3 linked regions of the Homo sapiens genome follow. The protein of the gene in region 3 purifies or fractionates together with the protein of the main gene of each other region. This does not show direct contact. Each region holds a gene or a part of one and is shown on either strand. Other genes may lie near its edges.

What was found.
Region 1: the proteins of WDR86 (region 3) and CCT6B purify together in Homo sapiens (affinity purification with mass spectrometry; 2 studies listed by BioGRID and IntAct, with this or other methods). This does not show direct contact.
Region 2: the proteins of WDR86 (region 3) and TXNDC9 purify together in Homo sapiens (affinity purification with mass spectrometry; 2 studies listed by BioGRID and IntAct, with this or other methods). This does not show direct contact.

Annotation. Positions count from the first base shown.
Region 1 is NC_000017.11:34,951,354-34,955,006, reverse strand, and holds part of CCT6B (T-complex protein 1 subunit zeta-2), read left to right. Parts: intron 1-407; coding exon 408-581; intron 582-2,953; coding exon 2,954-3,057; intron 3,058-3,653. UniProt on the Homo sapiens protein: Component of the chaperonin-containing T-complex (TRiC), a molecular chaperone complex that assists the folding of proteins upon ATP hydrolysis.
Region 2 is NC_000002.12:99,329,757-99,333,409, reverse strand, and holds part of TXNDC9 (thioredoxin domain-containing protein 9), read left to right. Parts: intron 1-167; 5' UTR 168-199; coding exon 200-388; intron 389-3,653. UniProt on the Homo sapiens protein: Significantly diminishes the chaperonin TCP1 complex ATPase activity, thus negatively impacts protein folding, including that of actin or tubulin.
Region 3 is NC_000007.14:151,400,022-151,403,674, forward strand, and holds part of WDR86 (WD repeat-containing protein 86), read right to left. Parts: intron 221-3,653; coding exon 79-220; intron 1-78.

The sequences.
Region 1 (3,653 bases), on a different chromosome or scaffold from region 3:
CTGTCTCATTATTGTGATGTTAACTTTGATCACTTGGTGAAGTGGTAGACACCACAGTGTTCTATCTGCCACTTTTCCCCAATTCAGTGGTGGTTCTTTTCCTCTGCATTGAAAGGAATCTTTTTATGTGTGCCCATTCAGAAGGGCACCACATAACAACAATGTAGTCATAATTTTTGGAAATAAAAAGGACTTCTGTAATTTTTAATACTAGACTTGAAGCCTTACTGTTAAGGTTGAGATTATTTCAAGTATGAAGCACTAAAATGACTTTTATAAATTATGTACACTTATATTTCATGGCATTAATGTGAGTAACTTTTTTTGAACATAATAATCAGACAGGTTGGTTACTTTTACATTGGGTGACTTATTTTATAATTTATAATTTTATGTTGATGTAACAGGGCCTGCACCCTAGAATAATAGCTGAAGGATTTGAAGCTGCAAAGATAAAAGCACTTGAAGTTTTGGAGGAAGTTAAAGTGACAAAGGAGATGAAAAGAAAAATCCTCTTAGATGTAGCTAGAACATCATTACAAACTAAAGTTCATGCTGAACTGGCTGATGTCTTAACAGAGGTATGTTATTAAACTTTTGCATTCAGAACAAATATAGCCTAATGCATGGTGATATTTTTCTTTTTCTGTAAGATAATCAAGTATTTCATGTGGTTTTTTGGGCATAAAATATGGAAGACAGACAATTATTGTATAGGCCTAACTGTAGATTAGATTTGACTGGTCAGAACAGTATTTGTAATTTTCAGAAGTATCATACTAGGCCTTTTTTTAAACGTGACTTGAAAGGTGGGAGAGGTTTGGCTGCCTGCAGATCATCTCCTGTGGAAGCTCTTGAATAGTATACTGGTCTTTTTAAATCTAGCAGTCCATATTTTATTATGTGAGGTGACACACAAGATAGTTGTTTTAGCAGTGTACCTTGTAGATAAGGTTACCAATATAATGAAATGTGATATGATATATTAATATATTAATATTCACATATTGGAAATGTATGTTTGTTTAGTTTATTTCTTTTATTAATTTATTTGAGACAGAGTCTTACTCTGTCACTCAGGCTGGAGTGCAGTGTCATGATCTCAGCTCACTGCAACCCCCGTCTCCCAGGTTCAAACGATTCTCCTACATCAGCCTCCCGAGTAGCTGGGATTACAGGCGCGTGCCACCACGCCTGGCTAATTTCTGTATTTTTAGTAGAGATGGGGTCTCACTATGTTACCAAAGCTTGTCTTGAACTCCTGACCTCAAATGATACACCCACCTCGGGCTTCCAAAGTGCTGGGATTACAGGCATGAAGTCACCACATCTGGCCAGTGTTTTGTTTATTTCTAAAGGTAGAATATATGTTATATAGGCTGGGCATGGTGGCTCATGCTTGTAATCCCAGCACTTTAGGAGGCCGAGGTGGGGAGACGACCTGAGGTCAGGAGTTTGAGACCAGCCTGGCCAACATGGTGAAATCCTGTCTGTACTCAAAATACAAAAATTAGCTGGGCATGTTAGCAGGCACCTGTAATCCCAGCTACTTGGGAGGCTAAGGCAGGAGAATCACTCTGGGAGGGAGGGGGAGGTTGCAGTGAGCTGACATCATGCCATTGCACTCTAGCCTGGGTGACAGAGTGAAACTTTGTCTCAAAAAAATATATATATATATATATATATATTTTATATAAAGACAAGATTGGCTGGATATTTTGGGAAGGCTTTTATCAGGTGGCAATGATTTGATATCATTATTGTTTTTCAGCTTTGTAATTTCTGAAACTTGAATATATTTGTTTACCAGGAAGAATGATAAATTCTTAGGAAACAAATTCACAAGACATTGACATACAAAGCAGAATACTACCTTAATAATTTACTTTGAGAACTACAAATGCCAAATGTACTGGAATACTTGAGTTGTTTCTGATCGATTCTCCTTACCGTTAAAAAAAAACAACTTGGGAAATCAGATTAAGATCAGACAATTTCTTGATGAGCAGAGTCAGAAGAAAGGCTCTGCTGTGTTTTCTGCTGTTAGAGTACTTGAATGGCCCCAAATCTTCATGCTGCTAGGGCACCCATTCTGTTTTAGAGTTACAGAAACAGTGATATTCTCACTATCCAATGGCCTTTGTCCTATTTCTTATTTGCCTCTAAAATAAAATATTATGTCACCTCAGGCAAAGTTTTCTAAGATACAGTTTTTTCTGCTTTATGTATATTTTAGGGTAGTTATAACTTAGCCCTTAATTTCTGCAGTTATTTATTATTTTTATATCATTTTCTGAGCTAAGCAATAAGACGTGTTGTGCTATGCTTCTTAAATTGTATATCCCTGGTCATATGTGACAGAATAAATGAGACGTAGCTTTCTGGAGTGTCAATTTTACTTTACAATTTTGGGGGAAAACATTATTTTTACATTGAGATAAACATATTATGGGATGACATGGAAACTTTTCACGATAAAACATGAGACTTTAACGTTTCCTGTTATTACAGCCAGCAAATTGGAGCTATTACCTTAGATTACCTTTCCTTCTTTTCCATTAAGGTGTCCTTTGGTGGAAAAGTTTGGATAGTCTTGGTATGATAGAAAGAGTAGTCGCTGGGCAGTTAGGGAGCCCTGAATTCTAGTCCCGGCCCTGTTACTAGCTGTTAGATCTTATTTAAAAACTGTGACTTCTTAAGGTCTTATCTCAGTTGCCTTATCTGTAAAATAAAAGGTTTGGACCTAATGATCTCTGAAGTTTCTTTAGACTCTAAAGTGTCTGTTGGCATTGGCTATTGTTAGCATCCATAGTAAAGTGGCACATATTGGTCTTGCCCTAGGTTTTGAATCCTGAAGGCTTTTATCTCCTTAGTCTGGTGATAGATTGTTTGGGCCCTTGGTTTATTTTAGTAGTCCAAATAACTTAACTGTTCTCATTCATTTCTCTTTCAGGTTGTGGTGGATTCTGTTTTGGCTGTTAGAAGACCAGGTTACCCTATTGATCTCTTCATGGTAGAAATAATGGAGATGAAGCATAAATTAGGAACAGATACAAAGTAAATTACATAAGCTTTGACAACATATGGGTTCTAGAATTTTTTAAAGATATTCTTTTATTAAATTCATTACTTACTTTTATTCAACATAAATATATTCATTCACCATATATTAAGTCACTGCTCTAGGTAATGGGAATGAGAGTAAACAGAACAGAATTTCTTTCCCCAAGAAGTTTATGTTTCTAATTGAAATAGAAAAAAAATCATGTGTGTGATTTTATAGTGGACAGGGAAGACTACTCTGATAAGAACCTGGAGAGCTAAGAGGTCTCTGAAGAAACAAGGGAGCTAGCCATGTGCACATCTGGAATAAGAGGGTTCTAAGCAGAAGGAATGACCTCTGAAAGGGTCCTGAGGCAGAAGTGTGACTAGGTTGTTACAGTGTGCCTGGAGCACAGGGAGAGGAGGTGAGGCAAAAGGGACCAGATTATGGAGTACCATGTTGATTTTGGATTTACTCTTTTAAAACTTTGTATTATAGAAAACTGTGAACATATATAGAGAGAACAGAATAGGGAATTTCCACATAACTGTTAGCTATCTTTATCAATTTCTAACATATGAAGCATACCCTTCCCTCTTTCCCCCTCCCA
Region 2 (3,653 bases), on a different chromosome or scaffold from region 3:
TTTAAAAACACATAAAAATTGTTAAGCCCAGCATCAAGTGCTTGGATGTCGTTAGAATACTCCATAGAGTACACATTATACACTTGCCAGAATTTTTGAAAATGGTAGAGAAAACCTTGCTTATTGTTTGCATTTTTTAAAATGTATTTTGTAAATCTTCTCCCCAGCACCCAGGCTGAACTCTGTACCATTTGGAAGAATGGAAGCTGATGCATCTGTTGACATGTTTTCCAAAGTCCTGGAGCATCAGCTGCTTCAGACTACCAAACTGGTGGAAGAACATTTGGATTCTGAAATTCAAAAACTGGATCAGATGGATGAGGATGAATTGGAACGCCTTAAAGAAAAGAGACTCCAGGCACTAAGGAAAGCTCAACAGCAGAAACAAGTAACCTCTCTGCCCTGCTTTCTGAAATTGCTATAACAGTATGCGCCTAACAACTTATATATACATGTGCTGTAGTAGTTACATTTCGTTCTTTGTGTTTAGGGTTTTTAAAATTCAGAATACCTATTACTGTTAAAAATTTGCCCAGAAAAAAATATGTTTTAAAGACATTCAAAATTAGCCCAATCTCTATATTAATCCACAGTCGAGTAAAAGAAAGATCTGCCCAAGATCGTTTTTCTGAGCTTGGATTTGTTTGGTTGAATGGAGGGCTAGGGAGTCATTGGTTTCCATTTCAGGTAATATTAAAGCCGATTTAGCTATTTTCAAAGCAAACGAGATAAGACAGATGAGATAAGAGCAATTAAGTCAATTTATGTTGAAAAATGTATTTCAGGCATTTCCAATGAAATAATTATGTGGCATATTCAAAAGAATGCATGCTTTGTAACAAAGGTGGCCACAGCTCTATCGTTGTTGCCTCTTAGAATGTTTGTGTAGAATAAACGCAGAGTTGTAAACTCTGACTGAAACCAGTGGATTAAATTCTGTAAATTGAAATTTTTTTTTCTGCTTTTTGAGATGGAGTCTCGCTGTGACACCCTGGCTGGAGTACAGTGGTGTCATCTCAACTCACTGCAACCTCCGCTTCCCGGCTTCAAGCAATTATTCTGCCTCAGCCACCCGAGTAGCTGGGACTACAGGCGCACACCACCATGCCTGGCTAAGTTTTGTATTTTTAGTAGAGATGGGGTTTCGCCATGTTGGCTAGGCTGCCCTTGAACTTCTGACCTCAAGTGATCCGCCCACCTTAGCCTGCCAAAGTGATGGGATTACAAGCGTGAGCTACCGCACCTGGCCAAATTGAATTTTGATTAAAACATTTTTTCCACTGGGTTACATGGAAATACTTTATCACCAACTCTGGTTCCTTTTCAGTTGACTGTGACTTAAACATGAGGCTTAACTTTTCTGAAGAAATAGGGAGTTTTGACCGGGCATGGTGGTTCACATCTGTAATCCCAACACTTTGGGAGTCCAAGGTGAGCGGACAACCTGAGGTCGGGAGTTCAATACCAGCCTGGCCAACATGGTGAAACCCTGTCTCTACAAAAAATACAAAAATTAGCCAGGTGTGGTGGCGCACACCTGTAGTCCCAGCTACTCAGGAGGCTGAGGCAGGAGAATCTCTTGAACCCGGGAGGTGGAGGTTGCCGTGAGTCGAGATTGTGCTACTGCACTCCAGCCTGGATGATAGAGCAAGACCCAGTTCCCCCACAAAAAAAGAGAAGGAGTTTTGTTTGTATTGCTGTAGCATCACTTTGATATGTTTACACCCTCATGTTTAGAAGAGTTACTACAAAAGGAAATAATCTTTTATAAGTGAGTCCAAATTTTTATATTTTGAGTTTCTAAAATAGAGTACGTTATATGGCTTTTACCTGTACCCTACCGTATTTTAAAAAATAGGCTGCTTTTCTTTTTCTTTTCTTTCTTTTTTTTTTTTTTTTTGAGAGGGAGTCTCACTCTGTTGCCCATCCTGCCTTGACCTCTCAAGTAGCTGGGATTACAGGTGCCTGCCACCATGCCCAGCTGATTTTTGTACTTTAGTAGAGATGGGGTTTCATCATGTTGGTCAGGCTGGTCTCAAATTCCGACCTCAAATGATCCGCCTGCCTCAGCCTCCCAAAGTGCTGGGATTACAGGTGTGAGCCACCCCACACCAGGCCCAATTGGCTTCTTTTCATAGTATAGGGCTGATAATTAGTATGCAAAGGACGGATTATTGGAATTTAAGGTAATATATGTTTAGGTTCTGCCACAAACTCATATTTCATAGTCACATTTAAGTACTAATTGCTAATGTGCAACTAAAAATAATTATTTGTAACTAGGATATTTTTGTAGAGAGACTGAATTCACCTGATTTGCAGTGATGAACATACGTTAAATAATGTCTTAAAGGAACTTTTTGGCAGTTCAAAACAGTGGTCTGAATATAATTAAAACCAACTAAGGCAGACTGGCTATAAGCCTTTTTTATTATTAATGTATAAATCAATTTAAAATGAATTTGTCATCGAGTAATTCAGAGGGTCTTATTTTAGAACTTTCACTGCATTTTAGTAGGTCTTTTATTAAAATATTTTCTGGAAATAGTCAAGAAACCTAGTGATTTGTATAGATATTCTTTTTATAAGAGATTATACAGTAATTAGATTATGCAGTAATTTTGATTTTCTGATCCACGAGGGTATTGGGGAGATCATTGTATGCATTGACTTACAGTCGGCACTTAATAGACCTAGGTGAATCTATATTCTTCTGTCAGCCAAGCACCCTCCTACTGTTAACTAGAGCTGGCACACTTAGGTAGGGAGCAGAATAGAGGGATAAGGTAAGAAATAGGAGTTAAGCAGAGGCTTGGGTGACAGCCACTGACAGCCAGGTGCTGCCCAGCTGCCATGCCTCAGGTAGGCCCATCCTGCTTGATTCTGTTCTGCAGATACCTTAGGAGCACATGCTGTCCAAAAGGGGCTATGCTAAGAGCACAGGGGTGTAGTGAATGTGTCAGGAGAGGCCCTGAGCATTGGTAGAGGTTTGGAATGGGCACATCCTCCCTCAAAGGAGCCCAGGACAGGTTCGGGTCTTCAGCCTCTTGGTTAAATACCTGAGAATAAATAATGAAAAGAAATAGCAGCTTTTTTTTTTTTTTTTTTTTTTTTTTTTTGAGATAAGAGTCTTGCTCTGTTGCCCCGGCTGGAGTGCAGTGGCACAATCTCGGCTCACTGCAACCTCCACCTCCCAGGATCAAGCAATTCTTCTGCCTCAGCCTCCCAAGTAGCTGGGATTACAGACGCCTGCCACCATGCCCGGCTAATTTTTGTATTTTTAGTAGAGGTGGGGTTTCGCCATGTTGGCCAGGCTGGTCTTGAACTCCTGACCTCAGGTGATCCGCCCACCTCAGCCTCCCAAAGTGCTAGTATTACAGGCGTGAGCCACTGCGCCCGGCCTAGAAATAGCAGCTTTTTAAAAGACAAATACTTTTTTTTTTGAGACAGGGTCTTGCTCTGTCACCCAGGCTGGAGTGCAGTGGTGTGATCTTGGCTCACTGCAACCTCCGCCTTCGGAGTTCAAGCAATTATTGTGCCTCAGCCCCCGAGGAGCTGGGATTACAGGTGTGTGCCAACACACCTGGCTAATTTTCATATTTTTTGTAGAGACAGGGTTTCGCCGTGTTGCCCAGGCTGTTCTCAAACTCCTG
Region 3 (3,653 bases):
GCCCATATCTCTGACCCCTCAGCCCCACCAGAAGCCTATGTATGGTGAGACTCAGCCCAAGCCCCCAGCCAGGCTGACCTGTTCACGATGGACGTGTGTCCTCGGTACACCTGCAGACACTGCCCGGTCAGCACGTCCCACCTCCTGATGGTGCAGTCGGCGCTGCATGTGAAGGCAGCCTCATCCTCCAGCTGGCAGAAGGTCACATAGCTTTCATGTCCTGCAGATGAGGGACAGGGGAGATGTGAGCGTACTGGGGATGCCAGCTCCTGCTTTTCTTCTGGGAACAATGTTTGAAAAGGGAAGAAAGCAGGATGTAGGGAGTGTTTGAGACAAGCTGGAGTCAATTAGCATTAGTTTTGTTTTGTTTTGTTTTTTTGAGACAGAGTCTCACTCTGTCACAAGGCTGGAGTACAGTGGCGCGATCTGGGCTCACTGCAACCTCTGCCTCCCGGGTTCAAGTGATTCTCCTGCCTCAGCCTCCTGAGTAGCTGAGATTACAGGCGCATACCACTATACCTGGCTAATTCTTTGTATTTTTAGTAGAGATGGGGTTTCGCCATGTTAGTCAGGCTGGTCTCGAACTCCTGACCTCAAGTGATCTGCCTGCCTTGGCCTCCCAAAGTGCTGGAATTACAGGCGTGAGCCACTGCGCCCAGCCCTCAACTCATCCTTCTTAAAGAATGACTTCAGTCTGAGTGATTCTCAGAAAGCACGGGGTACCAGTGAGGCACGACAGATAGTCAGGGAAGTAACCATGTCCTCAGGACGCAGCAACCATGGCGACTGCGCCGTCAACACAATAAGCCCCAGCATTCGCACTGCAGGCAAGCTCATTCAAGCAAAGCTATCTTCAGTAGGGACTTTCCCCTGTAGAGAGCACGTGCACTTTGATTTTTACCGGTCCTCACAGTGACCCTTTGCTCATTACAATAGTAAAAAACACACCCCTGGATGGAGATTTAAGATGCCAGTGAGACATGTGACGTATGAACAGGGATGCACAGCCACTGTGCATGAGCACCCAGAACATGCTTCCCAGCAACCCCCTTGCCCACCTGCTCATGAATAATCAGGTAAGACTCCTAAAAAGGGATCCTCCCTCCAGCCGGTCTTTGCTCTCTCATCCTCACAGGCAGCCTACCCTGACTCCCCTCTTGGGGCGTCCTGCCTATTCTGCACCTAACTTTCAGGGTATTCTTCCTCCTGTGCAATACATTGCTCTATGCTGCATCTCCTTTGCTGTGTGTCTCCTGTTTCAATTCTGTTAAACTAAGAAGACAAGAACTGAGGTTTCACAGCAGCCATCAACAGCAGGAGCAATCCAGGGGCACTCGCCTGCACCCTAAACCCTCTGTTTCCTCAGCTTCCACTCTTGCCTTCCTCCCTCCTCTCCTTCCCTCCTCATTTCTTTATCATCTCCTTTTAGTCTTTTTCAAACCTTTCAGCTTTTGCATTCCACATTTCCTCACCTGGGATGGGGACAATGCCTGCCTCACGGGATGTAGCGCAGACTGAGGACAGAGGCAGCCGCAGAGGGAATGGCACATGTTCGCTATTTTCCTTACACTGGGGAGAGATACTGTGGTAGGCAGAATGACGGCCCCAAGACAGCAGGTCCTAATCCCTGGAACCTGTCAATGTGACCTTACTTGGAAAGGGGTCTTTGTGGATGTGACGAGGTAAAGACTTTGACTGGGGAGATTATCCTAGATTATCCGGGGGGTCCTAAATACAACCGCAAGTGGCCAGGCGCGGTGGCTCACGCCTGTAATTCCAGCACTTTGGGAGGCCGAGGCGGGTGGATCACAAGGTCAGGAGTTCAAGATCAGCCTGGCTAAGATGGTGAAACCCCGTCTCTACTAAAAATACAAAAAATTAGCCGGGCGTGGTGGTGGGCGCCTGTAATCCCAGCTACTCGGGAGGCTGAGGCAGAGAACTGCTTGAACCCGGAAGGCGGAGGCTGCAGTGAGCTGAGGTTGCACCACTGCACTCCAGCCTGGGTGACAGAGCAAAACTCTGCCTCAAAAAAAAAAAAAAAAAAAAAAAATATATATATATATATATATATCTCCACAAATGTCCTTACAAGAGAGAGGCCAGGGAGATGTGATATACTCGGAAGAGGAGGCCGTGAAGGTGAAGGCAGAGATGGATGTGGCCACGAGCGCAGGAATGCCAGCAGCCACTAGGGCTGGAAGAGGCCAGGAACCGACCGTTCCCTGCAGGGTTTAGATGTGGCCCTGCTGACACCCTGCTTTCATCCCAGGGACGCTCATTTCAGCCCTCTGGGTTCCAGCACTGTGAAGAATCAACTTCACTTGTTTCCAGGCACCAAGCATCCTCCTTTGTCACAGCAGCCCCAGGACACTAACATAGACACAGAGACAATGAAACACAGCCTTGCCCTCCAAGGGAGCTCCAGGCCCAGAAGGGAAGACAGTCAAGGGCAGCATGTGGTCAGCAGGGCTCGGCACCCCACTGGCAGCGGCTGGCTGGGGCTCGGGAGAGAAGCCTGAGCACTGGAGACCAGGAAGAGGGTGACTCGGTGCCCGTAGGGAGAACAGCGGCTAGGAAAGCAGGCGTGCAGGGACTGGCTCCATGGGGCACCTCCAGGCCAGAGTCTGAGTGATCGGTAGAGATGACTGATGAGGCCGGGATGTGGCCAGAATGGAGGGCCAAGAGTGGAGGGCCATGCCAGGGTGTCTGGGGTCTCAGCACCTGAGCTACCCCACCAGCTGGTTGGGACTCTATCTCATGGGTGCAGTTAGATAGCTTGACTATCACCCTGGCTGCCAGATCAATGTTTATGCCTCAGGCATTGCTTAGCAGCCCTGGGGGCCCTCAGGGTCTCTGATCTTAGTAGGGCCTGCCCTTCAGGTAAAGATGGTGTGTATACAGTTGTCCCCCAATATATACAGTTGCCCCCAATACCCATCAGGGATTAGTTCCAGGATCCCCTGCAGATACCAAACTCCACAACGCTCAGGTCCCTGTGGTGTAGTATTTGCCCATAACCTATGCAATCCTCCTGCATACTTCAGTTCATCTCTAGGTTACTTATGACACCCACTGCGATGGCTACACATCGCTTCACTTGTGTGGATTCAGTGTAGGACTTGGTGAGCAGGGAAGCCAAATTTTGCTTTTTGGAGCCTTGTGGAATTTTTTTTCCTGGATGTTTTTCATCTGTGGTTAGACGAACCCACAGGTGCAGAACGTGTTGGGCAGGAAGGCCCACTGGATTTGAGGAACTCGGGGACCAGGAAGTCAAATCAAAAGACTGTTAGAACTAAGAGCCATTTTACAGATGAGACAATGGACAAATTCAAACATCCACACATTTGGGGGACATACTTATTACATTAAGAATTTTGATAGAATTTTAAAATTTCATTTAGACAGCTGGTATTGGGTAGACAGGGATTTAGAATTTCCTGGGTAGTTTCAAGCCAATTCACATCCACCCCTTCCCCCGACCCCCTGAGTTTAAGTTCAGTTACTCTTGGAAAAACGCAACTTCCTGAGTTCTAAGAAACATAATTTAACAAAAAAGTTTTCCAGCCTCCCTGGAGGGCATATACCAGGCCGCTAAGAAAACAATGTACGGATTAAGTCAACATTTGAAGAAACTGCAGATTCTGTTTCCCTTA